4 linked regions of the Homo sapiens genome follow. The protein of the gene in region 3 interacts with the protein of the main gene of each other region in a pairwise test. Each region holds a gene or a part of one and is shown on either strand. Other genes may lie near its edges.

What was found.
Region 1: the proteins of FCHSD2 (region 3) and SASS6 interact in binary tests that used the Homo sapiens proteins (3 or more experiments, as listed by UniProt).
Region 2: the proteins of FCHSD2 (region 3) and HOMER1 interact in binary tests that used the Homo sapiens proteins (3 or more experiments, as listed by UniProt).
Region 4: the proteins of FCHSD2 (region 3) and ABCF3 interact in binary tests that used the Homo sapiens proteins (3 or more experiments, as listed by UniProt).

Annotation. Positions count from the first base shown.
Region 1 is NC_000001.11:100,129,914-100,137,083, reverse strand, and holds the start of SASS6 (spindle assembly abnormal protein 6 homolog), read left to right. Parts: upstream 1-4,153; 5' UTR 4,154-4,269; coding exon 4,270-4,334; intron 4,335-7,170. Other genes in the region: TRMT13 (tRNA:m(4)X modification enzyme TRM13 homolog), read right to left, coding at 1-65, 156-202, 3,769-3,915.
Region 2 is NC_000005.10:79,392,122-79,399,154, reverse strand, and holds part of HOMER1 (homer protein homolog 1), read left to right. Parts: intron 1-1,517; coding exon 1,518-1,628; intron 1,629-2,251; coding exon 2,252-2,332; intron 2,333-7,033. UniProt on the Homo sapiens protein: Postsynaptic density scaffolding protein. Binds and cross-links cytoplasmic regions of GRM1, GRM5, ITPR1, DNM3, RYR1, RYR2, SHANK1 and SHANK3.
Region 3 is NC_000011.10:72,978,314-72,985,346, reverse strand, and holds part of FCHSD2 (F-BAR and double SH3 domains protein 2), read left to right. Parts: intron 1-230; coding exon 231-285; intron 286-1,130; coding exon 1,131-1,259; intron 1,260-7,033. UniProt on the Homo sapiens protein: Adapter protein that plays a role in endocytosis via clathrin-coated pits. Contributes to the internalization of cell surface receptors, such as integrin ITGB1 and transferrin receptor.
Region 4 is NC_000003.12:184,189,166-184,194,505, forward strand, and holds the end of ABCF3 (ATP-binding cassette sub-family F member 3), read left to right. Parts: intron 1-89; coding exon 90-112; intron 113-222; coding exon 223-278; intron 279-391; coding exon 392-592; intron 593-689; coding exon 690-766; intron 767-1,833; coding exon 1,834-1,878; intron 1,879-1,957; coding exon 1,958-2,090; intron 2,091-3,435; coding exon 3,436-3,524; intron 3,525-3,639; coding exon 3,640-3,731; intron 3,732-3,936; coding exon 3,937-4,069; intron 4,070-4,199; coding exon 4,200-4,287; intron 4,288-4,374; coding exon 4,375-4,533; 3' UTR 4,534-4,840; downstream 4,841-5,340.

The sequences.
Region 1 (7,170 bases), on a different chromosome or scaffold from region 3:
GTTTTGGTTTCTCTCTTGAGTTACATTTTTTCAAATGCTTTGCTAGTTGATCTTCATATACTGTGCTAAATTTAAAGAGAAAATTATTTCAAATGAGACTTGTGCCAATTACTGTTTCCAGCACAAAAAAAAACCCGTATCTGATCCACACTTACTGTTTTGGATCTAAAGGACACAGGATTCTTTTCCGAGCATCTTCTTCCTAATAAATTAAGAGATACATTTATTTAAATAAAATATCAAGTTTATTGCTTACAGATACCAGATATAACTTCAGTGTCTCTGTAATCTCAAAACAAGGTAAGGAAACCTTACAAGGACATAATGAAAAGTTGGCAAAATCAGGTCCCAAGGGTTTAACAAAAACTCTCCAGTGTACTGGCTTAAATACATATGAACAAATACTGCTTTGGACAAACAAGGGTCTATAGCTTCAAACAGGGTATAGAGAAGGCCTACATATGGTGTCTGAAATCTAAGATAGCATCAACTATTATATGTATGACTATTTTATGCACAACCAAGAAAGAAAAAAATGCTGCCTATTTCATGTTAATTGACAAATAGTTGTATATATTTATCACATATTAGGTTTGTACAAAAGTAATTGTGATTTTTATGGCAATAAAAATAATATACACTATTATTTATGTATGGTTTTAATACAACATAATGTTTTCAAATATGTATACATTGTGGAATGGCTAAATCAAGCTAATTAACATGTATTGCCTCACATACTAATCATTTTTTGGAAAATGCTGCCCATTGACATATGGATTTTAAGATGTATCCTGATTTTAGAATGTTAAAATGTAAAAATAAAGTTTCTTAGAAACAATGGAACATGGCATTTTAACCATTTGGATGTGCCATATTTTACTGGCTTTGCAACTTTTTACTATCAGTTACATCCTACTCATTCCTAAGTTACATCACTTAATGACTGGGAATACATTCTGAGAAATATATCTTTAGGTGATTTTGTCATTGGGAGAACATCATACAGTATAGTAACACAAACCTAGATAGTATAGCCTACTGTACATCTAGCCTATATAGTATAGCCTATTGCTACTAGGCTGTAAACCTGTACAGCATGTTACCATACTAAATACTGTAGGCAATTGTAACACAATGTAAGTATTTGTGTATCTAAACATATCTAAACATAGAAAAGGTACAGTAAAAATACAGTATTATAACCTTATGGGACCACCATCATATATGCGGTCTGTTGTTGACTGAAATGTCATTATGTGGCACATGACTATATGAACTGGGAAAAAAGAAAGGAAAATTGATAATGTTGGCAATTCTACCCAATATTCCACATGAATCTGTATAAATAGGGGTCATATAACAGTTAAGAACACAGGCCAGCCAGACTGCCTAGGTATGATACCCAGCTCTACCTACCAGCTACGATCCCTATGACCTTAGTTAGGTAGGCTTACTGCCTCATCTGAAAGATGAGAACAAAAATATGTCTTACCTTCTAAGGTTTGAACACATTAAGTGAGCTAATAGTTAACAAAACAAAACTGCCTAGCCCAGTGCTGTACATAGAGTAAGTGGTGACTAAGTGTCTGCTATTATTATTCTTTTAAAAATTTATTTCTGTTCGAATGTGCCTCTCAGCATGTCCATGAAGCTATTCACACTGAATTTCATGGGAAAGCTAAGAAATTTTTTTTTTGAAAATACTATATATTCAATAGAAGAAAAAGAAAATACTGTATATAATTTCTTCCTTATTGCTGACTTTAAATCCTAACCTCCATGTAAAAGACTATTCTAACCCCCAGAGCCTAACTGTAGCATAGGAAAAAAAAAGCACATTTAAAATTTATTAGTTGAATTTAGAAACAGGAATTCTCAATCTTGGCACTATTGACGTTTTGGGCAGGTAATTCTTTTGAGGGGGTGAGTGCAGGGGGCTGTCCTGTGATTTGTAGGAGGTTTAGCAGCATTTCTGGTCTCTATCCATTAGATGTCAGTGATACTCCTCAGTTTGACAACCAAAATGTCTTCATTTTGCCAAGTGTTCACTGGAGGCAAAATCAGTCCCAGTCGAGAACCACTGGGTAAAAATGAGTGGTGTCATCACAGCTATATATGACACTTAGAAAAAAAGATGGAAACACAACATCCAGTTACATCATAAATTACAGATTCAGGAGGATAGCCACAATTTAAAACGAGATAGTAGTCAATAAAAGTGTTTCCACTTGATGTTTTGCGGTCTCTCTTCAAGTGTCTAATGACAATATGTCGTTCCTCTATAGGAATACTAATCAGCTTGTAAGGATTTATTCATATTCTACTATCATCACTATTTGTTTTCACCTTCCATATATCTGGATAAGGTGGAGTCTAAATCCTTCTCCTATCATAACTCTCATTCTTCAACAAGGGATGTTTGCCAGTCCCCTCAAAACCAGTCAATAGACTATGGGCATAATTCAGAGTTCCCACAACAAATCACGTCTCCCATATTCCAAAACAAGAATGTCCTTGTTTCAGTATGCTTCACTTTTGGTAAATGCCAGTCAAAACAAAATAGGAAGTAGACTACAACTATGATGGAGAGTGGCAGATGAAGGGGGTCAGGGGACTGATCTGCACTGGATATTGTCTAGAAGAATAAATTCCTTAAGAAATAAAATAATGCAAATAATACTGAACATTCAGAAGCATGAAATCTGATGCTGATCGCTTTGGTTTATTCTTTATAGTTCTGTGGAACTATAAGGACATGCTCTCTTCCTATGAGCATTTTGCTCCTCTGGTTTTTATTTTCCCATCTCATATATATCCTAAAGTAATATACATATATACAAATATAAAGTGTTTGATAGTACATTTATATGCATAATTATCAAACAAAATTGTATGCTTTGTTCTCAATTGTAAAAGGTCAATTCGTATATATTTAAAAATCTTTCCTTCCCATTCCAGCAAAGTTGCATTCTTAAAAACTGTAAGTCGAAAAAAATTTTTTTTTCTTTTTTGAGATTCAGTCTGGCTGTCACCCAGGCTGGAATGCAGTGGTGTGATCTTGGATTATTGCCACCTCCACCTCCTGGGTTCAAGCGATTCTCCTGCCTCAGCCTCCCGAGTAGCTGGGGTTACAGGCTCGCACCACCACGATTTTCTTAATTTTAGTAGCTCGCGCCACGGCTGATTTTCTTATTTTTAGTAGAGAGAGGGTTTCATCATGTTGGCCAGGCTGGTCTCGAGCTCCTGACCTCAAGTGATCCGCCCGCCTCGGCCTCCCAAAGTGCTGGGATTACAGGCGTGAGCCACCGCGCCGGGCCTCAAGTCTAAATTTTTAAAAGAAAGTTTCTTCCAACCGCATTCACGAGAAGTGCTTCTCTTTCATGAAATAACAATTAGAACACAACTAGTGAAACCTTTGGGACTTCAATCACTACTTTTTCTAAACTACCACTTTCCAGCAGGAAGACGGAGCGGTAGCTTGGGGTAAAAATTAAAACCTAGCATTACCATGAGTTAAGATCGAGATAAATAGATCAAAATAAATGGGTCACTGCTGGCGCTTTACTTAGAAAAATAAAAAATTTCTCATCACTAGAACTCATAATCGCTCCGCAAGGAGGGCAAAACTGGGTTTATTAAAGTGAAAGCTGGAGAATCCAGGGGACACAAGCAGAAAGCTGTCAAAGAGGGGAGGGGCCGGGTTCCAGCACCGACAGGACCAGGATACTTATTTCCGACTCTTGAGAGAGTAGGGCGATACCACACCTCCGCGGCTCCAGCGTGTTCACCACAAAATCTTTTCCCTGCGGCCACCACCATCCTGCAGAACCGTTTCTTCTTTTCCACATAGTAACCGCATCTACCCTCAGCTGGAAAACCAGGCGCGTGCGGCGACGTCGCGGAGGTCGCCATAATTCTAGGGCTCGCTTCCGGTGTCCAGCATCCGGCAACCAGAAGAAAAGTTAGAAGCTTCCTTCGGGTCTCCTTCCCTTAACAAACATGGCTGCCTCAGCCCCCGCGCCACACAGGTTAATACCCGGAACTACCACAACCGTCTTCCCTTTATCCTCCGCAGAACCGGAAGAATCCGATGGTGGCTGGCGAGGGCCAAGTCTCTTACGCCTTCCCCTCGTTTCTCCCTCCCCGCCTCCTCCGCAGAAGCCGAGCGCCAAACTCAAACTTTATCAGGACCCGGACCTCTCAGGCTAATCCCGAGGGCCGGGCCTGTTGGGCTTTTCTGCACACCAGCCGAGGCAGCGAGCCAACATGAGCCAAGTGCTGTTCCACCAACTAGTCCCGTTGCAGGTGAAATGCAAAGACTGTGAGGAGAGGTAAGGTCCGCGTCATCCAGTGCCCGCGGGTGGCGGTTGGGGTCAGGCCAATGGGGAAAGATGGCGGTTCTGGCCCGTGGGATCCACCTTGCACCTAGGTGTCGAGTCGGCCCCCCTAGGAAGCGGATAGGGAACCCAGAGGGCCCGGTGGTTACCTCTCTCACCAAGTCGGCCGTTGCAGAGGGGACTGGAGGAAGGGTGTGAGGAGTTAGGAAGCCGGCTCACATCAAGTTAATGTCAAAAACCCTACCTGTGCACGGAATCGTGAAGATTATAGCCCTACTCTTCCCTTTTGACAGATAAGAACTCTGGCCCAGAGAAGTTAAAAAAATTTACGTGAGGGCTCACAGCCAGTTCATGGCAGGGTCAGGACTAGAACTCAGGCCTTGGCTCCGAGCCTTTCCCCCTCGTTCTCTTTTGAAGTATGTTGGCAGTAAAGTTCAACTTTTAAAAACCTACCAATTTGGTGGCGTACTTTGGCTCTTCACATCAGTTGCTTTAAAAAAGTAAATTACATTTAACCGACTAAAAATGAGAAAAGCAGAAACGTCATTAATTCATTCAATAAATATTGCCTCCTTGTAAAACACCTTACTGGGCACTGGGAATACAGTGGTCAGGAAAAACAGTCCTTTTCTTCATGGAGTTTACAATCACTGGAGGAAATAAAGACCAGTCGCACAGAGAAGTGCAACTTTGATTAAGGAGGTGGTATTATTGGGGCGTAAATAGATTTGACCAGAGGTCAGGAGACTTACTTTTTTTTTCTCAGTTCTAACACTCAATGGTTGTCTCTTTTTTTCTCTGAACGTTCTTTCCTCATTTGTAAAACTGATATAACATGCGTATTCACGTGTTTGTAATGAGGATCAGGTGTGAAATCTTTTGCGTATTCACGTGTTTGTAATGAGGATCAGGTGTGAAATCGTATGTGAAAACTAAGTGGTGTACAAATGTAACATAAAAAATGAAGACATTGCCTTATTGAGTTGCCAGTAATGTCAAACTGTAGTATATATAGTTCAGAATTCGGTCAAAAATCAATGGCAAGCCGGTCAAGGAGATGGTCCCAAAACCAGCAGCTGCATATGGAGATCTGTAGGTTTAGTTGATCATTCTTTTAATGCTGTCCAGTATGGTAGCCACTAGCCACATGTGGTTATTAGACATTTGAAATGGGGCTTATCTGAATTGTTGTGCTTTACATATGAAAATGCACGTTGGATTTTTAAGACTTACTATGAAAAAAGAATGTAAAATATGTCAATTTTTATATTATGTGTTAAATGGCAATATTTTTGGGTATATTGGGTTAAATACAATGTATTATTAAAATTAATTTCACCTGCTTTTAAAAGTCTTTTTAAAATGTGACTTCTAGAAAATTTAAAAGTAGGCTAGGTATGGTGGCTCACACCCGTAGTCCCAGCACTTTAGGAGGCCAAGACAGGAGGATTGCTTGAGCCTAAGCTTGAGGTTACAGTGAGCTACTATTTGTGCCACTGTACTCCAGCCTGGGTGATAGAGCGAGATCCTGTCTCTGAAAAAAAAAAAAGAAAAAGAAAAAAATTAAAATTACATACCTGGCTCACATTTGTGGCTTACATTGTATCTCCATTGGACAACACTGTTTTAGAATGATTATAGAAAGATAAAGGAGGCCATGACTTTGGTTTCAATATGGAAACTCCTAGATGGTCTCTTTCTGGTTACATTGCCATCACAGTTAATCTAAAAACTCAATTTCTCTGCTTAGAAACCTTTAATATATTCCTATTATCTGTATAATAGGGGTCAGCAAACTGGAGCACATGGGCCAGTTGGCTCACTGTTTTCGTAAATAAACTTTTCTTGGAATACAGCCATGCTCATTTGTTTACATATTGTAGCTGCTTTTGCACAGGAAGGGCAGAGATGAGTAATTGTGACAGAGACCTTATGGCCCGCAAAGCCTAAAATATTTGCTATCTGGCCCTTTACAGAATAATTTGGTGATCCTTGACCTATAGGAAGAACAACCCAGACTCTCTCTCTTTCTCTCTCTCTTTTTTTTTTTTTTTCTAGACAGAGTCTCGCTCTGTTGCCCAGACTGGAGTATTGTAGCACGATTACAGCTCACTGCAGCCTTGACCTCCTGGGCCCAAGGGTTCCCCTCACCTTAGCCTCCTGAGTAGCTGCAATTACAGGCGCATACCACCACGCCTGGCTTTTTTTTGTTGTTAATTTAATTTAAAAGAGACGGGGTCTCCCTGTATTGCCCAGGCTGGTCTTGAACACCTGGGCTCAAGTGATCCTCTCACCCCAGCCTCCCAAAATTCGGGGATTATAGGCGTGAGCCACCACGCCCAGCCCAGACGCCTTGGTTGAGTATTTGAGGCCAGTTCAGCTCAACAAATACTGGCAAATGTCTGCTGTGTCTCAGGAACTGTCCTAAGTGTGGAGGATGTAAATACGCACCCCCCTCTCCGTCCCCAACAACAACAAAAGCCAACAAAAACCTCTTTTCATTCTGTCCCTCAAGGAACTCACATTTTAATAGGGGAAATAAGATTTTCCTTGAACAGGCACCATAGCACAGATTAGGAGTTCAGGCTCTGGAGCCAGATTGCCTGGGTTTAAGTCCCAGTTCTTCCACTTACTGACAGATCTTGTACAATTTCCTTCTCTGTGTCTCATCTTTAAGTTGATGGTAATAACAGTACCTACTTCATGGTATTATGAGAATGGAATGAATTATACATATGAACTGCTTACAACAGTGACTAGAGCATAATAAATGTTCACTAAATTTTAGGTATTAATGTGTGACAAATGCATAAAGTAATATAAGTACACT
Region 2 (7,033 bases), on a different chromosome or scaffold from region 3:
GCCCACAATTTGCAATTGTTACCTATAGGAAAGTTACTCCAATAAAAACTATTTCATCATTATCAGAATTGGAACTCCCTTTAAGGAATTTATTATATAATGAGACAAAACAAATACACATTAAACAATAAGTGAAATAATTCCCAAGATTTTTGAACAGATGCTTGGTTTTGTGAACCAGAGGAGAGCCTTGAAGACTTGAGCAGATAGGAATGGCTTTCTGGAGAAAGCACATGCTGAGCTAAGAGTTAAGGGTTCGGTTAGGTCCGAGTGGTTTTCAGAGGCAAGAGAGGACATTCTAGTTAAATCAACAAGTTGGGAATGAATATCACTTGTTCTTAGGACAAGGAGATTTGCCTGCTTTTAGTTGGAAGTACTCACTGAGTATCTTGGGCAGTGTGGATGGTTGAGAAGGTTGGGGCCAATATACAGAGGATCTGAGCGTTTAGATCTGATACCGTAAAAAAGATGAGCTGCTGAAAGTCTTTGAATGGTGGAATCACAGGAATGAAAGATGAATCTTAGCAATTTGCAGAATAGACAAAAAAAAGATTATAATTAAGTCCACTGGGAGGCTGTTGGTTTTGTTCAGGTCTGGATGATAAGGGTTTGTAACGAGGCTATTAGTACATGAGAAGAAAGGAAGAAAATTATATAAGAGAGAGAATCACAGAATGTAGAGGGTAATTTGATATTTGGAAAATGCCAGGGAGAGGGATTTACTCTGTTTCTTTAATAGTCTAGAATTTACTATCTTCTAGTAAACCAAAATTTTATGAGCACATGATATATGTAAAGAACTGTGATAGGGTGTGTGTGTGCATGTGTGTGTGTGTGTGTGTGTGTATTTATATTGACTTCTGTCTATTGCTGATTCTAGTTTTAGATGGTATAACTTGAAGGACAGTGCCCCTCTCTGTTCTCTCAAAAAATACCAAGTGCTCATTAAAAGTTATATTACTCTTTGGGCCCCCAGTAAATTCTTATTGACTAACAAAATTTTATCTTACCCGTAAGAGACACTGTTGATGTAAAGTCATTCCAGTATCTAATGATTTAAGTTGTATTTTAAGCCTATTTTCTCTTCCAGATTCTCTTACATGTTGGAAATGTATTTGAAAAAATTCTCACTTCTGCAAGGCCAGTTTTCAGAACCCATATTGAATTTGAAGGCTACAGATGAAGGACAGATGGTCATATCTGATCTTGAATATGTTTTTGGAAGAAATTTTTACAGAAGACTTTCATTATAGGGATTCTCTACTGTCATTAATCACTTAATTTAAGTTATCCTAACCTTTCTATGACTAAGCCATGTAAATGATTATTTTTCCCTTTTCCTAGTTTTATATCTTTGAAGAATCTATTCACTCTACCTTGAGTGTCTTAATATTTCTCAAAATTAATTTTTATATATTTATTCAGAATATACTATTCACTTATTTGGGGCTATGTATTTAGCAAGAAACTCTTTAAAGTTGAAATTTAAGTTAATCTGTGTTCTCATTTAATTTTAGGTGACTGAACTTGAATGTGTTAGTAGCCAAGCAAATGCAGTACATACTCATAAGACAGAATTAAATCAGACAATACAAGAACTGGAAGAGACACTGAAACTGAAGGAAGAGGTATTTGCTGCTTTTTACTCATCTGTAATCTAGCTAACATGTTTGTACAAAGTATTAGATTCCATGTCAAATTTAAAAGTATTTTATGGAATAAAGTCAGGTTGTGACCTCTTTTTTAGGATGAAATTTTTCTTGAGTGGTATTAAGCTTGCTCATATTTTCTCTATCCTTATTTCTGTTATTATGAACTGTGGTGAGGCAGTCAGACCGAGATACCACCTGTTGCCTTCCAGATGAGAGTTGCATTTATACAGTCAACAGAAAATCATTAGGGGTTAAATGGATTTTAAAAGCTGTTGGTTTCTCTGGGTTCCAGTCAAAACTTTAATATCTTAGGAAAGAATTATATCCACAAAGCTTGAAGCAACATTAAAATGTTCAGGTTGTTATTTCTAAGCATTGCTGTACCAGAAGCACCAAGTTAGACTTGTTGCTGTTGCTTAAGATTATTGTTCTAGACAACATACATATAAAGATGAATTCATCCCTCTAAAAGTCAATATGAAGGAATGTTTTTAAAATCATCTTTTTCTAAGAACTAGAACAATAATTTCAGGGAAAAACAAGACCTTCCCTTGCCTTGATATAGTTTGAATGTTAAGACATTGCTCTGTCTTTTCTAGGAAATAGAAAGGTTAAAACAAGAAATTGATAATGCCAGAGAACTACAAGAACAGAGGGATTCTTTGACTCAGAAACTACAGGTGAGCTGTAGTAAAAATTGTTATTCACTTCTGCATAGAAAGGCATCATTTTTTCACATAGCACTGACTTTTTTTCTGAGACTCCATTTTGTAGGTTTTTGGTCATTTTTCTTTTCCGGGACTTCTGATTCATGCCTAATCTTTGATTTTTAAAAAGTTACTTGATAACTTCATCTATGTAGCTTATAATTATCATAGATGGTCATTTATAAATTGTAAATTATTTAGTAAATCCTTTTGGAAATTTCTACTTTTAATTAAAAAAAAATACTCTGGGTTTGGGCATGGTGGCTCATACTTGTAATTTCAGCACTTTGGGATGCTGAGGAGGAGGATCACTTGAGCCCAGGAGGTTGAGGCTGCAATGAGTCATAATCACACCACTATACTGCAGCCTGGAACAGAGTGGGATCCTGTCTTAATAAAAAGAAAGAGAGAGAGAAAGAAAGAAAACCCTGAATTTAAAGAAAAATTTGCAAATTGATTTCATTCAATTTGGGAACATTATTATTATTATTATTATTATTTTACAATGTACTAATGTATGAATTATACCAATAGTTGTGCCCTAATGGAACACAAGTTAGTACTTTTCGTTCTTCAGTGTAATTAATTTTACTCACTTTTTTCTGCATAAATAGTATTCTTCCTGATTCCAGTGTACAAAAAACATCATGTGTCAGTGATAGTCAGACATGGTAAGGGAAGATTTCTCAGAATTTATTACCAAAGTCTTCTCTTGCCAGCTCAGGCAGTTTTCTTACACCCTCAGCGTTAGGTGCCTCAATAAAGAAGGGTTAGGATGACTTTGGAGTAGAAATAAGTATATGTATAGAGTGAGGAATCTGAGATAAGGCATAATAAGAGGGACCTGAAAGCCCAGGATTGGAAAGAGGACCTAGATTATAATAAGAACAGCCAACATTTATTGAGTGCTTGCAACATATCGGACACTGGGCTTAGCACTTTACCTGTATTATGCATTTAATCCATGTAACAGTCATAATAACCCAGATGAAGAAACTGAAGCTTGGAGAGGTTAACTTGTCCAACCTATATTTAAATGGAGACAGTCAAATTTTAAAATCCAAATCTTTGACCACTAAGATAATGGTCAAAATACATTATTTTAGTAGTCAAAGACATGGGCTTTAAACCCCTTCATAATAATCCTTCATGAAATAAACAGATTCCTTATATAAAATGGAATATTTACCTCTCCCCTTCCCATCACTGGCTTTCAGTAGTCTGGGAAAAATGAGATCACTTGTTTTGGTTGGCCCTATTAAATGCCGTTTGTATATTTTAGTCGTCTATATAGATTAGTGGTCATCAACTTGGGGCACTTTTGAAGCCCAGGGGACATTTAGCAATGTGTGCAAACATTTTTTATTTTCACAATTAGTGGAGCGCCACTGATATCTAGTAGACAAAGCCAGAGATGCTGCTAAGAATCAGATTATCCAACCCAAAATGTCAATAATGCCAAGGTTGAGAAATCCTGATGTAGAACTTAAATATGAAGCATGGAATCAGGGCTGGAAGAAAGGGGGAAATTCAGTCAAGTTTTGTCTTTCGTTTGTTTTGGGTTTCGGGTACTTGCGATGATTCAAGCATATGTTAAGCACTTAACTTACATTAGCTCTAATTCTCACAGTAGCAGGTGAGGTATCCCCATTTTCAAAGAGAAGACAGCAGTTCAAAGGTGTTAACAAGTTTAATTAAGGCACTTAGCTAGAAAGTAATGAGGCCTAGATTTATTTTATTCCAAAGTCCGTTCTTTCTGCATTACCACACTTCTTCAAGCAACAAACAGTCAAGTCATCCTTAATGATTCTTTTAAAAAGTATTTTCAGTTATATACACATTTACATTGTCTCACTTATGAAGAGAAACAAAGAGATGATATATTTATATCAAATTTCTAATGTTGATAATTCTAAATGTATTTGAAGCCAGGCATAGTTGCTTATGCCTATAATCCCAGTGCTTTGGGAGGTTGAGGCAGGAAGATCTCTTGAGGCCAGGAGTTCAAGGCCAACCTGGGCAACATAGCGAAATGCTGCATCTACAAAAAAATGAAACAGTAGAATTAGCTGGGAGTGGTGGTGTGCACCTGTAGTCCCAGCTGCTTGGATCACTTGAGCCTCGCTTGAGTTGGGAGTTGCAGTGAGCTATGATCACACCACTGCACTCCAGCCTGGGTGACAGAATGAGACCCTTTCTCAATAAATGTATGAATGAATGGATTTCATCATTGATAGAGCAGTAATTGAATTTTATAGCTGGCACTTGAAATTGTGAATATAATTCTTACCCATCCTTTCACTGAATATCAAAAATATTATCAAAACAACCTACCTAGAACAGGACAGGGAAGCTTTTAGAAAACCTGAGGATGAATTCTAAAAGAACAAGCTACAGAAAATAACATATTTTTTCCAATTCAAAGAAATTTCCTCCTCTGCAGCCTTCTCCCTCCCACAGAAACATCTCCTGTTTATCAAAGGTCCCAGCACCCTTGAACTCCATTCATAAGTTCAGTACAGAAAATTGGGATCATTAAATTCCTTGGAAAAGAATCCTGAAATTGCAGTATTTAGAGTTGGATTAGTATTTAGAGTTGAATGTGGATAGAAAATGTATAGTTATTGGTAAATTAAGGATACCGTGCTACAGTTTTTCTAATTTATGAGTTTTTGATATTTGGCAATATTTGGATATTTCTGTTATAAATGTCTATGAAAAACATGCCCATTGTAAAAAAAATTAGAAAAATTTCAAAAAATGTACTTAGCAAGGTTAGTATAAAATCATAATTCCATAATATTAAAAAAATCATAATCCTGTCATCTTAAGGCAAGGTAACTGGCATTTCCTTGTCCCAGTGTTGGTTTAGATAATATTTTCTTTATAAGAGATGGATATAGATACCATTTTTTGTTTGTATACATTTTTATCTAACTTTATGTCATAAGCCCAATGGCTGCATAGAATTCTCCCATATAGAGGTATCATAGTTTTCTTCCAGCATTCCTATAGTAATGGCAGTTTATGTTGTTTCCAGTGTTATGCTATAAATAAATAATATTACAACCTTTTTCATAAATCTTTGCCTTTCTGATTATTTCTTTAAGATAAACTTTCAAACAAGAATTGCTTGGTGTCAATGTTTTAAAATTTCTTATGCTGGGAAATTGACATCTGGAAAAGCAGGGTACCCACTGGATATTGGTACCCCCTGGACCCGTTCTTTGCCATCTCTTAAGAAATGAAGTGACTCAACTATTTAGTTAATTTTTAAATTATGAATAACATTGAACAATTTTTCACATGCATTTAGTCTTTACCTGTATCTTGAAGTCACGAGTGCATTTTCACCTTAGAGCATGTGGAATATCTTTGCCTGGAATTCTTTGCCCAAATCTTCAGATGGCTGGCTTCTATTTTTAGTTTAGGTCTTAGTTCAGATGTTAATTTCTCTGACTTCCCAATTTAAGGACTATGCTACAGTCCCCACACCCCATCCCAGGTATTTTTTGTAGTATTACCATTTTTTATTTTCCTTTTAGTACTTATCACTAGCTGAAATGATCTTGTTTTTTATTTCTATTTTGTTTTTAAGCTATTTATTTTTATTTCAATAGGTTTTTGGGAACAGGCAGTGTTTGGTTACATAAATAAGTTCTTTAGTTAAACTTTTTATTTTGAAATAATTTCAGTCTTACAGAAAAGTTGCAAGAATAATACAGAAATTTTTTATATACCCTTTACTTACATTCCCCAAATGTCATTTTGGCTATATTTGCTTTGTTTTATTCTGGATGGCTCTCTTCTCTCTCTCTCTCTCTCTCTCTCTCTCTCTCTCCCTTTCCCTTCTTTTCCCTCCCTCCCTCGTAAGACAGTGGTAAGTATTCATGTATTTGTATCTAAGCACATCTAAACACAGAAAAGGTAGAGTAAAAATACAGTAGAAACGATAGAAAAGGTACAGTAAAAATACAGTAGAAAAGGTAAAAATTGTACACTTGAATAGGACACTTATCATGAATGGAACTGTAGGACTGGAAGTTGCTCTGGGTGGGTCAGTGAGTGAGTGGTGAGTGAATTTGAAGACCTAAGATATTACCATACACTGCTGTAGACTTTATCAACACTGCACTTAGACTACACTACATTTATTTTTTAAAATGTTATTTCTTCAATAATAAATTAGCCTTAGCTTACTGTAACATTTTAACTTCATAAACATTTAAAATTTTTTTAACTTTTTACTTTTTTGTAATAGCTGCAAACATAAACATGTATTCAGCTGTAGAAAACTATTTTCTTTATATCCTTAGTCTGTAACCTTTCTTCCTATTAAAAAATGTTTTTAAAACTTTTTAAACTTCTTTTAAAAAACGAAGACACAAACACACATATTAGCTGATGCCTACACAAGGTTGGGATCATCAATATCACTGTTTTCTACCTCCACATCTTGTCCCACTAGAAGGTCTTCAAGGGCAATAACAGGCATGGAGCTGTCATCTCCTATGATAACAATGCCTTCTTCTGGAATACCCCCTGAAGGACCTGCCTGGGGCTGTCAGATAATTAATGTTTTTTTAAATAAGTAGAAGGAGTACACTCTAAAATAACTTGAATAGTAATAAATAGTATAGTATAATAAATATATAAACCAGTGACATGGCCATT
Region 3 (7,033 bases):
ATATTTGTCTTATATTAATCCCAGTATTTCCTGTTTTACCATGATAATAAATTCTTCCTGTAGTAAAATAAAGGAAAATAATCATTACTCTTGGTTTTCCATTTTTTCATTCTTTTTTAGAGCAGTATCTTCAAAAAAGATTATTTTTAAATTTTAATAATATATTTAGTAATTTTATTGTGATATAATTAGATGATTTTATTAAACATACTTTTCTATTTTTATTATAGATCTAAACTTAGTCTTTTTCAATCAAGAATCAGTTTACAGAAGGCAAGTGTAAAGGTAAGTTTTCAATAAGTGTATTTCACAACTGAGAAACCTCTTAGCTTGTAAAACAGAGAATTGGATCTTTGAGGGTGGAGGTGGATTATTTCTACCTTAGAGAAGCATTTTAAAGTCACTGACTCAGGGAGGAACTTTCCCTCCCAGTTCATGGGGGTTTTGCACCCAGCTGTCAACACCTTGGACACACTTGCTTCTCAAGACTGCATTAGGGATAAGTTTCTGGACCTTACCTGCTTAGGCAGCCTGTTGTCTTTAGCTCTTAGTCCAAGAGACTTAATCCGGGGGCTTTGGAAAGCTCTACAAAATCTATTTCGTTTAGATTTAGACCCCTGAGTGATATTCTGGGCCAGATGTGAGTGAGTTTTTCCTTCGGAAACTTCACACTGTGGAATGCCTGATTAAGTAAGCTTAGAGACCTGGCTGTGGCTGCCAGGCTTCAAACTAGCATGCAGTTCATCTGGCACATTAGGAGTGCTGATTTTTAAAAAACTGTTTTCTAACTCCACTAGATTTTACCCATACCTTTGAAGATAAGGTACTTATTTCAGAACCTTTATTTAGTCATTTGAATAAATGGGCAAAATATTTTTAAGTTATCTACAAAGCTTTAGAAGTATGTTAAGCAAATATTTGAAAATGCTCCTGCCCTGTATAACAGTTCTAGTCACTGTTTCATTCCTTAGTAGTGATGAATAATTTTTATATACGTATAAATGTTTTCCGCACGTGGTTACCTTTATTCTTGTTGGGGAGCCATTAATTGCAAACTAAGAGTAGGATTCCTATGTGTTTTGCAGTACAATATCAGTTTGCACTGATTATTTTATTTTGCTATGTTTTAGTTAAAAGCCCGGCGATCTGAGTGTAATTCCAAAGCTACCCACGCAAGGAATGATTATCTTCTTACCCTAGCGGCAGCAAATGCACATCAGGATCGCTACTATCAAACAGATTTAGTTAACATTATGAAGGTAATACAGCTTTCATATCTATGGTAATTTTACTTCATTGAAAACAAAAACAACTTAAGTTGGGTGTTGGGTTTATGGGATTGAATCTATAAAAGAGTAGCCAGGCTATGTTGCATCTCATTGGAATATACTTGTTATTGTTTGGATAGCATCTGTTTCAGATAATTTGGAATTAATTTTTAGTTAAGAAAATGTTTACAGACAAGTCACAGTAAAGGATTATATTATTCCCTAGGTGCGGCAAACATTTGTTATCTAGTGGTTATTGATGTAGAAGATACAAGAGTGATGTAAGAAATAAAATAATGACTCAAACTGGGAAACTACTTCTGAGCTATTTTATGAGACTCATGTCATGGTTTCAATAAATTATTGAAGCTAGGCAGAATCTTCAGGTATCTTCTGAATCATCGGAGAAAGACATTTTAGCATAATTTTTGTTAGATTGTATCTGTATTTTTTGAAAAATTTTTATAAGAAAAGTTTTATGCAAAAGAATATTTCTATTAAAAATATATTTTTATAGTGTATCTCTTAGCCTGAATTTTTTATTAACTACAATTTTGGCCACAACTATGTCTAATGATAATTATGAAGCTTTTTTTAATTTTAATTTTTTAGAGACAAGGTCTCGCTCTGTTGTCCAGGCTAGAGTGCAGTGATGATCACGGCTCACTGCAGCCTTGAACTGCCAGGCTCAAGCAATCCTCCCGCCTCATCCTCCTGAGTAGCTGGGATCCAGGTGCATGCTACCATGCCTGGCACCTTTCTTTTATTTATTTTTTTTTTTTTTTGAGACGGAGTCTCGCTCTGTCGCCCAGGCTGGAGTGCAGTGGCGGGATCTCGGCTCACTGCAAGCTCCGCCTCCCGGGTTCACGCCATTCTCCTGCCTCAGCCTCCCAAGTAGCTGGGACTACAGGCGCCCGCCACTACGCCCAGCTAATTTTTTGTATTTTTAGTAGAGACGGGGTTTCACCGTTTTAGCCGGGATGGTCTCGATCTCCTGACCTCGTGATCCGCCCGCCTCAGCCTCCCAAAGTGCTGGGATTACAGGCATGAGCCACCGCGCCCGGCCCCTTTCTTTTATTTTTAGAAACAAGAGTCTTGCTATGTTGACCAGGCTGGCCTCAAACTCCTGGCTTCAAGTGATCCTCCCTCCTAAGCTTCCCAAAATGCTGGGATTACAGGTGTGAGCCATTGTGCTTGGCTATTTTTTATTTCTAAAAAAACTTAGATTTTTAAAAAATTTCATTACGTTTATCCTGAATTTATGGGTAAAATTGCACATTACTATTTGATGATTTTGAGCTGCGTACGGGACAAACAAAAGAGTATGTTCAGTAGCTATATGAAGATGTCTGTCCTCTGGGTATTACTCTGAAATGCAGATAGATTAGATTACAGTTTGTGTACCCAAACTTGATCTAGCATTTCCCTGTTTATACCACCTATGATGTGTCTTTAACTTTCACTGAAATAAAGAGAAGATAGTAGAGGAAAAGGAAACCTTTGTAATCTGTTGCCAGGTTTCTCCCTTGTTGCTGACAGGCAAGCTCTGCTTTGGATTGTATCTGTCATTCTTTCCTGTTTTCCCAAAACCCAAACATTTTATCATTTTGTTTTTTCTTATTTTCAACCCATCCCCCTCAAATGTATTGTTCTTAATGACTAACAAACACACACATTGCTGTAGTCGAATTGCTTAATTTACAAATCAGCAATTGTGAATGGGGATGCAGCCAGAGCAGGTGCTCTTTTTTCTGCAGTAGCTCTGGAAAAGAGGTCAACTCTGGCCAGAAACTGCAAGTTCTTTCCTTGAAAGTAGAGATGGGACAGTTCTCGGGACCTTCAGGCAAAAACAAGAGTGTTGAAGGGAGTCAAACTGGACTAAGAAGTATCCTATTGCAAAAACGTTTTTTCTTTCCTTTTTGTTCACTGCCTGAAATCCCCTTTTCCTAGCTTCTGTTGTGACTTCTGCTTATTAGAATACAGGTTAGAAAATATAGAGACAAGGAACTGTTTTGTCATCTCAGATGAAAACTCTGCATATATTTTCCATAAAGTATTAGACCTAGAGGTTTAGGTGTTTTAGTATATATAGTTTTTGAGACAGGGTCTCGCTCTGTCATAACAGGCTAGAGTGCAGTGGCTTGAACATGGCTCACTGCAACCTGAACCTCCTGGTCTCAAGGGATCCTCTTGCCTCAGCCTCCCATGTAGCTAGGACCACAGGTGCCTGCCACCATACCCAGCTAATTTCTTAATTTTTATTTTCGCAGAGGCGTGGTCTCACTTTGTTGCCCAGGCTATTCTTTAACTCCTGGGCTTAAGAGATCCTCCCACCTCAGCCTCCCAAAATGCTGGGATTATAGGGGTGAGCTACTGGGCCTGGCTGGTTTTAGTATCGTATTAGGTATTACATAGTGCTTCAGACTTACAAGGACCAACAGTTTCAAAGAACACATTTACTAAAGATGATTTTTAGCACAGCTCGCACTTAAGGTTGTAATTCACTATATTCTATATATGTCTACTATTATATCAAAGCTGTATATTTTTCCCTATGAATATTTTTAAATGAACATTATATTAACTTAAGCAACAGCAAAAATAAAATCCTATTTTTTTTCTATTGGATCTACAGCTAAAAAAGATGGCCTTCAATAAACCAGAGAAAGTACATTCTTATTTGGGGGATCTGCTCTCTGCCTAAAGCAAAGAGGAAGTTAAAGGGCCTGGCCAGCTCACAGATTAATATATGTTCTCGAACTTACTTTGAAGTCTTTATGCATATATTTGATCAGCATTGGGTAGGTCATGCTTTGGAGTATTCATTTAATGAAACATTGTGGGGTACTAAACTGATTAAAAATAGAGGCAGGGGTTGGTCCCTCCTGCCCCTTAAAAATGAGAAAACATACTTTCAGTTTTCATGTACTGTACATTAACTCATTTTCTTCCTCATGCTAATTCTATAGTCTGCAGTACAGGAAAACTCCTATCAATCATGCTGTTAGCTACTTAGTAAATTTCCACCATTGAATTGTCAGTGGCCCTTAGATGCCTTTCTTGAAAATATCTGTTTTTCTGAATTAATGTTAAGGAAATATCTATTTTTCTGAATTAATGTTAAGGTGATAATGCCCTATATGGGTAGCTTAAAAGCAGGGTATTTGATTTGTTGGTTTAATCATACACATTTAAGAGCCTCTTACAGCATGCTAACTACTGAGTTAGGCTTTGGGAAGAGACAGATGAGTAAGACATACTACTTATCCTCAAAGAGCTCAATATGGTAGAAGAGAGTGAGATGTATATATATACATACACATATATATACACACACATATATACATATATATACACATACATATATATACATACATACATTATATATATATATATATATATACACACACACACATACACATACATATATACATGATTGCAAATTAGAGTGATGGAAATCACTTACTGCTGGAGGACTGTGGTTAGTAATAATAATAGCTATCTTTTTTATTGCTTAATATTGCCTTGGCATTATCCTAACCATTTAATACATGTTATCCTTTCTCATTTTCTTTGTTATCCTCGTTAAAGTTCATAGCTCATTATTTAAATAATACTCTAACTTATATTCTTATCTTTGCCCTTCTTCAAATGAAATGAAATTGTAACTCTGATGAGCCCCCATAACTGGATAATCTGTATCTAAGCAGCCAAGTACTGCTGAAGAAAAGTTTCGACGGAGCAGATTCATGATCATAAATTAATAGAGAAACCAGTGCAGCAGTTTCAACACTGCTTAGATGGCCTACTGTCTTTTCCCTAGTTAACTTTTCCTACTATTTTTAACAGTTATTTCAACTTTTCCCCCCTCTTCAAACCTCAAACTTACCCCTTCTCTTTTATGCTTAGCAAGTGGGTTTTCTTCCTAATTTACAGAGACGATAGAAACCGTTGGAAGACAGCTTCAATATTGTCCACTTCATCTGTGTTGAAGACTCTTCCAGAGTCTCAGTAGCAGTTGTTCCTGTCTAAAGGTGATCTTTTCACCTCAGCTTTGGATTATATCTCATCCCCTCCTGCCTTCTTAGGGAACAAAACAATTATTTTATGTTCTTTTCGTATTTCCTGGACATTCTGTTCTTACATTAGCAGTTATCTTGGTGATAACAACCCTCATTATGACTGTCTTTTGAGTTACATTCTTCTAATCTGGACTAGTTGCCCTCTGTGTCAGATGCAAGTATTTATCCTGAGATCTTCCTATATGTCTTTGTTGTGTTAGATCTCCAGTTTTCTTTATGATATGTCTTATTTTTTTCTTGATTTATACTGTCCTTTGGTAGAGCACATCCTCCAGTACCTTCTTGCGAAAGTGGGCATGGGAAGTAAGTTTTTTGAGATACTATGTTTATGAAAATGGCATATTATTTGCTTGTACTTGGATATAGAATTAAAGGTTGAAAACTCTTTCATTGAAACATTGGAGTCCATACCTCATTGTTTTCTTCTTTACTGTGTAAGTATTGAGAATCCAAAGCCATCCTAGTTCTTGATTATTTGTATCTGATCTAATTGTTTGTTTTTTCTTTTTTTAGAAGTTTATGGAATATTCTCAGTGTACCCTTTGATTTCTTGGATTAATTCTTCCCTTTTGTTTTCTCTTTCTGGAACTTCCCATTATTAAGATATGATATCTCCTAGCTTGCTTCTTTAAATTTCATTTCTTTCTTATTTTCCATCTTTGTCATTATGTTGTACTTTTTGGGAGACTTCTTCAACTTTACAGTTTCTTTTATTGGACTTTTAATTTTTTCATAGTAGTTTTAATGTATGAGAGTTCTGTTTTCTCCACATCCTTACCAGCATTTTTTATTGCCTGTTGTATTAGTTCGTTTTCACACTGCTTTAAAGAACTACCTGTGGCCGGGCATGGTGACTTACACCCATAATCCCAGCACCTTGGGAGGCCGAGGTGGGCAGATCACCTGAGGTCAGGAGTTTGAGACCAGCCTGCCAACATGGTGAAAATCCATCTCTACTAAAAATACAAAAAATTAGCTGTGTGTGGAGGCATGCACTTGTAGTCCCAGCTACTCAGGGAGGCTGAGGCACGAGAATCGCTTGAACCTGAGAGGTGGAGGTTGCAGTGAGCTGAGATCGCACCACTGCACTCCAGCCTGGGTGACAGAGTGAGACTTCATCTCAAAAAAAAAAAAAAAAAAAAGAAAGAGCTACCTGAGACTGGGTAATTTATGAAGAAGAAAGGGTTAATTGACTCAGTTCCGCATGGCTGGGGAGGCCTCAGGAAACTTACAATCATGGTAGAAGGCAAAGGAGAATCAAGTACCTTCTTGACATGGGGGTAGGAGAGAGGAAGCGAAGGGGGAAGTGCCACTTTTAAACCATCAGATATCGTGAGAACTCAGTCACAATCATGAGAACAGCATCAGGGAAATCGCTCCTATAATCCAGTCACCTCCCACAGGGACCCTCCCCCGATATATGGGGATTACAATTTGAGATGATGAGATTTGAGTGGGGACACAGAGCCAAACATATCACCTGTCTTTTGGATAAAAGTCATTTGACCTGGGATGACATGCTATCTAATTATAGTTTTGATTTATGTTTCTCTGATGGTCAATGATATTGAGCACCTTTTTATATGCCTGCTTGCCATTTATATGACTTTTTTTGAGAAATGTCTATTCAGATTTTTTGCTCATTTTTATTTTTTATTTTTATGTATTTATTTATTTTTCTTT
Region 4 (5,340 bases), on a different chromosome or scaffold from region 3:
ATGAAGCCCTATGGAAGATTGGTCTTAGCTCTTGGGAGGTGGCATGAGTTGCTGACCTAAAACCTCAGGCCATGTATTGTTTTTCATAGGCCAGATCTTCTGCTGTTAGATGGTGAGTTTGAAATGGGGCACCCTGACTTTAGGATGGGCAGGGGTGGTAGCATCCAAGTTCCTAGTTCTCCAGCCCTTCAATCCCAAGTGTGTGCTCCCCTGCTTCTCCAGAACCTACAAACATGCTGGATGTCAGGGCCATCCTGTGGCTGGAGAATTACCTGCAGGTGAGTGCCTGTGGGTGCTGGAGTGTGTTGGGGAAAGGCGGCCTCCAAGATACCTGGGGGCCTGAGAACTGACTGCCCTCCCAAACCGGGCCTGCTGTCCTGTGACCCCTCAGACGTGGCCCTCCACCATCCTAGTCGTCTCCCACGACCGCAACTTCTTGAATGCCATCGCCACAGACATCATCCACCTGCACAGCCAGCGGCTAGATGGTTACCGGGGAGACTTTGAGACCTTCATCAAGAGTAAGCAGGAGCGGCTGCTCAACCAGCAGCGTGAATATGAGGCGCAGCAGCAGTATCGCCAGCACATCCAGGTGTGGGGCCTGGCAGGGCTGGGGGTCCCATCCCAGGGGTTCCAGAGTGGGGGATAGTGGGGGAATTTGACCAATGCCTACACTCCTCCACCTGCAGGTTTTCATTGACCGGTTTCGCTACAATGCCAACAGGGCCTCTCAAGTGCAGAGTAAACTCAAGATGCTGGAGAAGCTGTGAGTACAGCATCCTTGGCCAGGGCCTGACTCCTGTTCTCTTCGTCTCCTTCCGCATTTGCACGCCACCCTTGCCCTACCATTCTAGGTCTCCCCTTCGCTAGAAGCCAACTGTGACTTCCTCCTCTGCTGGGAAGCAGAGTATTCCACACTGTTCTTGGAGGGCTAATCTTGACTAGCACATGGCAACCACTAATTTACTTTCTGTTTCTGCTTCTACGTATCTGCTTATTCTGGGCATTTCATATAAATGGAATCATACAATATGACCTTTGTGCCTGGTGTCTTTTACCTGGCGTCATGTGTGAGGCTCATCCATATTGTAGCGTGCGTCAGAGCTTCATTTCTTTTCGTGGCTGGATAATATTCTGTTGTGTGGATATACAGCATTTTGTTTATTGAGTCATGAGGGGCCATTTGGGTTGTTTCCATTTTGGTTATTATGAATAATGTTGCTGTGAACATTGGTGTACAAATTTTTGTGTGGACATATGTTTTCAGCTTGCTTGGGTGTATACCTAGGCGCAGAATTGCTGGGTTACCTGGTAATTCCAAATTAATGTTTTGAGGAACTGTCAAACTGTTTTCTAAAGCAACAACATCATTTTACATTCCTACCAACAAGGGATGAGAGTTCCAATTTCTCCATGTCTTTGGCAGCACTGTTATTGACTTTTTTTTTTTTAGTTTTAGCCATCCTAGTGGCTGTGAAGTGATAGCTCATTGTGGTTTTGATTTGCATTGCCTTAATAACTAATGATAATGTGCATTGGGAGTTTAATTTTGAAGTGCCCTTTCTATAAGTGCTGGCAGGAAGCTTAAAATCATAAAGCTTAGATGTTTGCGACGTGGAAACATATCACAATATAGTAACTGGGGATAAAAAGTCACAAAAAGCCTAATTCTATTTTTTAGCATACAGTAAATGAGAAGAATGGACTCTAAAGTAATGATACCTGAGTGGTAGGAGTACAAGCCCTTTCTAAGTTTTCTCTGAACATATATTACTCGTGTAGGAAGTTATTTTTTTAAGTAATAAATCTAGTCTACCTCATCTCTTCTCCCAGGCCTGAGCTGAAGCCTGTGGACAAGGAATCAGAGGTCGTAATGAAGTAAGTGCTGGGCCAGTGGGGCTGGTGGGGAATTGCTTGCTTCCAGCTGCCCCCACATCCTCACCCCTACCTCCTGCAGGTTCCCTGATGGGTTTGAGAAGTTCTCGCCGCCAATTCTGCAGCTAGATGAGGTGGATTTCTACTACGATCCGAAGCACGTCATCTTCAGTCGCCTCTCTGTGTCTGCTGATCTCGAGTCTCGCATCTGTGTGGTAAGGCTGCTGTTTCTCTGTGCTGCGAGCTGGGACTCTCCTGTCTAAGTGTGTGGTGTGGATTGGCCCAGATCCTCAGGCTGTAAAGGGACGAGGTCTGTGGAACAGGAGTGAGGGCCCGGGCTAAGGATTTTGCAGGACTTACACTAGCCCTGTCCTCTGGCCGCACAGCGCTGCTCTTCAGGGAGGAAGAGCCTAGTGTATAGTGTTTTAAAAATACTTAAAAATACTTAAAGCAGTGCTTTACCTTATTGGTCTCGGTTCTGAGTTTTCTAAACCTGGAGACATTGAGGAGAGAGCATGGGCTTCAGGGTCAGACTTCGGATCTTGACTATGCCATTTCCTAGCTTGGTTACCAAGCAGCTTCCTAACTCTTAAGATGGCGCTGACATCTACCTCACTTGGTTCTTGGGAAAAGTAAGTCCCCAGCACTTAGCAAATACTCAAGTATTGCTCACCTTAGTATATGCATTTTTCTGTAGAGTTAGAGTTCCTTTTTTTTTTTTTTCGGAGACAGAGTCCTGCCCTGTTGCCCCGGCTGGAGTGCAATGGCACAATCTTGGCTCACCGCAGCTTTCGCCTCCCGGGTTCAAACAGTTCTCCCTCAGCCCCACAAGTAGCTGAGATTACAGGCACCCGCCACCATGCCCAGCTAATTTTTTGCATTTTTAGTAGAGATGGGGTTTTACCATATTGGCCAGGCTGGTCTCAAACTCCTGACCTCAAATGATCTGCCTGCCTCAGCCTCCCAAAGTGCTGGGAATACAGGCCTGAGCCACCGTGCCCGGCTAGAGTCCTTAAAAATATTTTTTTGGTTGTTGAAGGAGTCATCGGGACTGGGGACTGCCTGGGACCCCTTCTAATTTCCTTCTCCTCTGTGTTACACACAGCGGTGCTCTTTTTATTGATACATAATTGTACATATTTATGGGGTACAGAGTGATACTTCCATGCATGTATACAATGTGTAATGATCAAATCAGGGTAATTAGCATATTCATCATAAACATTTATCACTTTATGTTGGGAACATTCAGAATCTTCTAGCTTTTTGAAAATGTACAGTCTATCATTGTGAACTGTAGCGTCCCTGCAGTGCTGTAGAACCCTAGAACTTATTCCTCCATTCCTCCTATCTAACTGCAATTTTGTTTCAGTTAACCAACCTCTCCCGAACCCCTCTCTCAATTCCCCTCCTCCCCCCTTATCCTTCCCAGCCTCTAGTAACCACAACTCTGCTCTCTACTTCTATGTGCTCAACACTTTTTAGTGCCCACATATGAATGAGAACATACCGTATTTATTTTTCTGGCACACACTGTATGACATTTTCATGTTTCTTAAGGTTGGAGAGAATGGGGCTGGGAAGTCTACCATGCTGAAGCTGCTTTTGGGGGACCTGGCACCTGTTCGGGGCATCAGACACGCTCACAGGTCAGGCCCACCCGCACCCCTGCCCCCATGAGCACATTTGCAGGCACCCATGCTGCCTGCGCTCCTTCGTGGCCATTGCCTTTGTCTGTTTTTCCACCTCGGCTTCTGCCTGCAGGAATCTGAAGATTGGCTATTTCAGCCAGCACCATGTGGAGCAGCTGGACCTAAACGTCAGTGCTGTGGAACTGCTGGCACGCAAGTTTCCTGGTGAGTTAGGGATTTGAGTCGGGGGAAGAGTTTGAGTAGGGAAGAGGGCTGAGGCTGACCCCGGCAGCTAGGCCTGCCTTGGGGTGCGTGCAGAGCAGCCCCGCCAAGCCTAGATGGAAGGACATGGGGACTTGGAGGTGTGGCTGGAGGGCACAGGGAGGGTGTTGGGCCAAGAAGCCACCTGATCTGGGGAGTCCTTTTCCAGGGCGGCCTGAGGAGGAGTACCGTCACCAGCTGGGTCGGTATGGCATCTCCGGAGAACTGGCCATGCGTCCTCTTGCCAGCCTGTCTGGGGGCCAGAAGAGCCGAGTGGCCTTTGCTCAGATGACTATGCCCTGGTGAGGCCTCATTTTCCAGAGCTCTTCCCCTCCCATTTCCCCTTCTTGCCCAGTAGAAAACTGTATCAGAAGGCTTTATTTTCTCTCACCGCACCCCTTCACTGCCCACCTTCCTGGTTCTGCCTTCCAGCCCCAACTTCTACATTCTGGATGAACCCACAAACCACCTGGACATGGAGACCATTGAGGCTCTGGGCCGTGCCCTCAACAATTTCAGGGTGAGTGTGCCTTCACCCTGACCACTCCTCCCAGGCCTCGGTGCCTCTTGTGTCCCCCTGAGCACCTCCTGCCCTCCTGTCTTTCAGGGTGGTGTGATTCTGGTGTCCCACGATGAGCGCTTTATCAGGCTGGTGTGCCGGGAGTTGTGGGTATGCGAAGGAGGCGGCGTCACCCGTGTGGAAGGAGGATTTGACCAGTACCGCGCCCTCCTCCAGGAACAGTTCCGCCGCGAAGGCTTCCTCTAGGGCCACCAGGCTGAGGACTCGCCCAGGACATGGACTGGTCTCTCAGACCCCTGGGCCACCATGTAGGCCACCACTCCAGGCCGTGGACTTCCCCCAACTTGGGGACAGCCTTATTCCCAAATGTCTCTATCCTTTTGACTGGAGCATCTTCTGCACAACCTTGGGAGCCCATCCAAGGGTTGGTGAGGACTGGTCTCCCGGGGGTGGGGGTCTGGGGGGTACCCTCTGGGGTTATAGATTCCCCCACTGCCCCAGCTCTGACTGGACCCCAAGTGGCTGCTATGTAAATTAAATCTCTCCCCGCGTCTCCTTTGCCTCATGTCTGCTGCTCCCTGGGCAGTGGTTGCCTCCTACTGAGGGCTGTGGACTCTCGGATTGGCGTTTTCCTATGGCACTTGTATCCCTCACGTGTAGGAAGCAATAGCAGCACCAGCCTTGCCTCTAGAAGAGACATTGTCAAGCTACTGGGGCATGGAGGTCATCTGCCTGCCTGACCTTGGGGTGGGCTGAGCCAGTGGAATGAAGGGCAGTGTATTGGCATCATTGCGGTGCTGTTAGCCCTAGCCTGGGCTCAGCCTCAGCTGAAGGGGTCTTGGGTTCTGTCGTCACAGCCCCCACTGATGGGCAGTTGAACTGATTGTGTAACCTGGCCTCACACGTGGCCAGCTGCTTTCTCCAGTCATATCTGGCTCCGGCTTGCCCTGCTTCTCTGCTCTCTAGACTCAGCACTGAAGAGAAACCATCTTTGTCCTCACTTTGCTTGGGTGATTGCATGTTCTTTATATTTCCTCTAACCATATAGGAGGG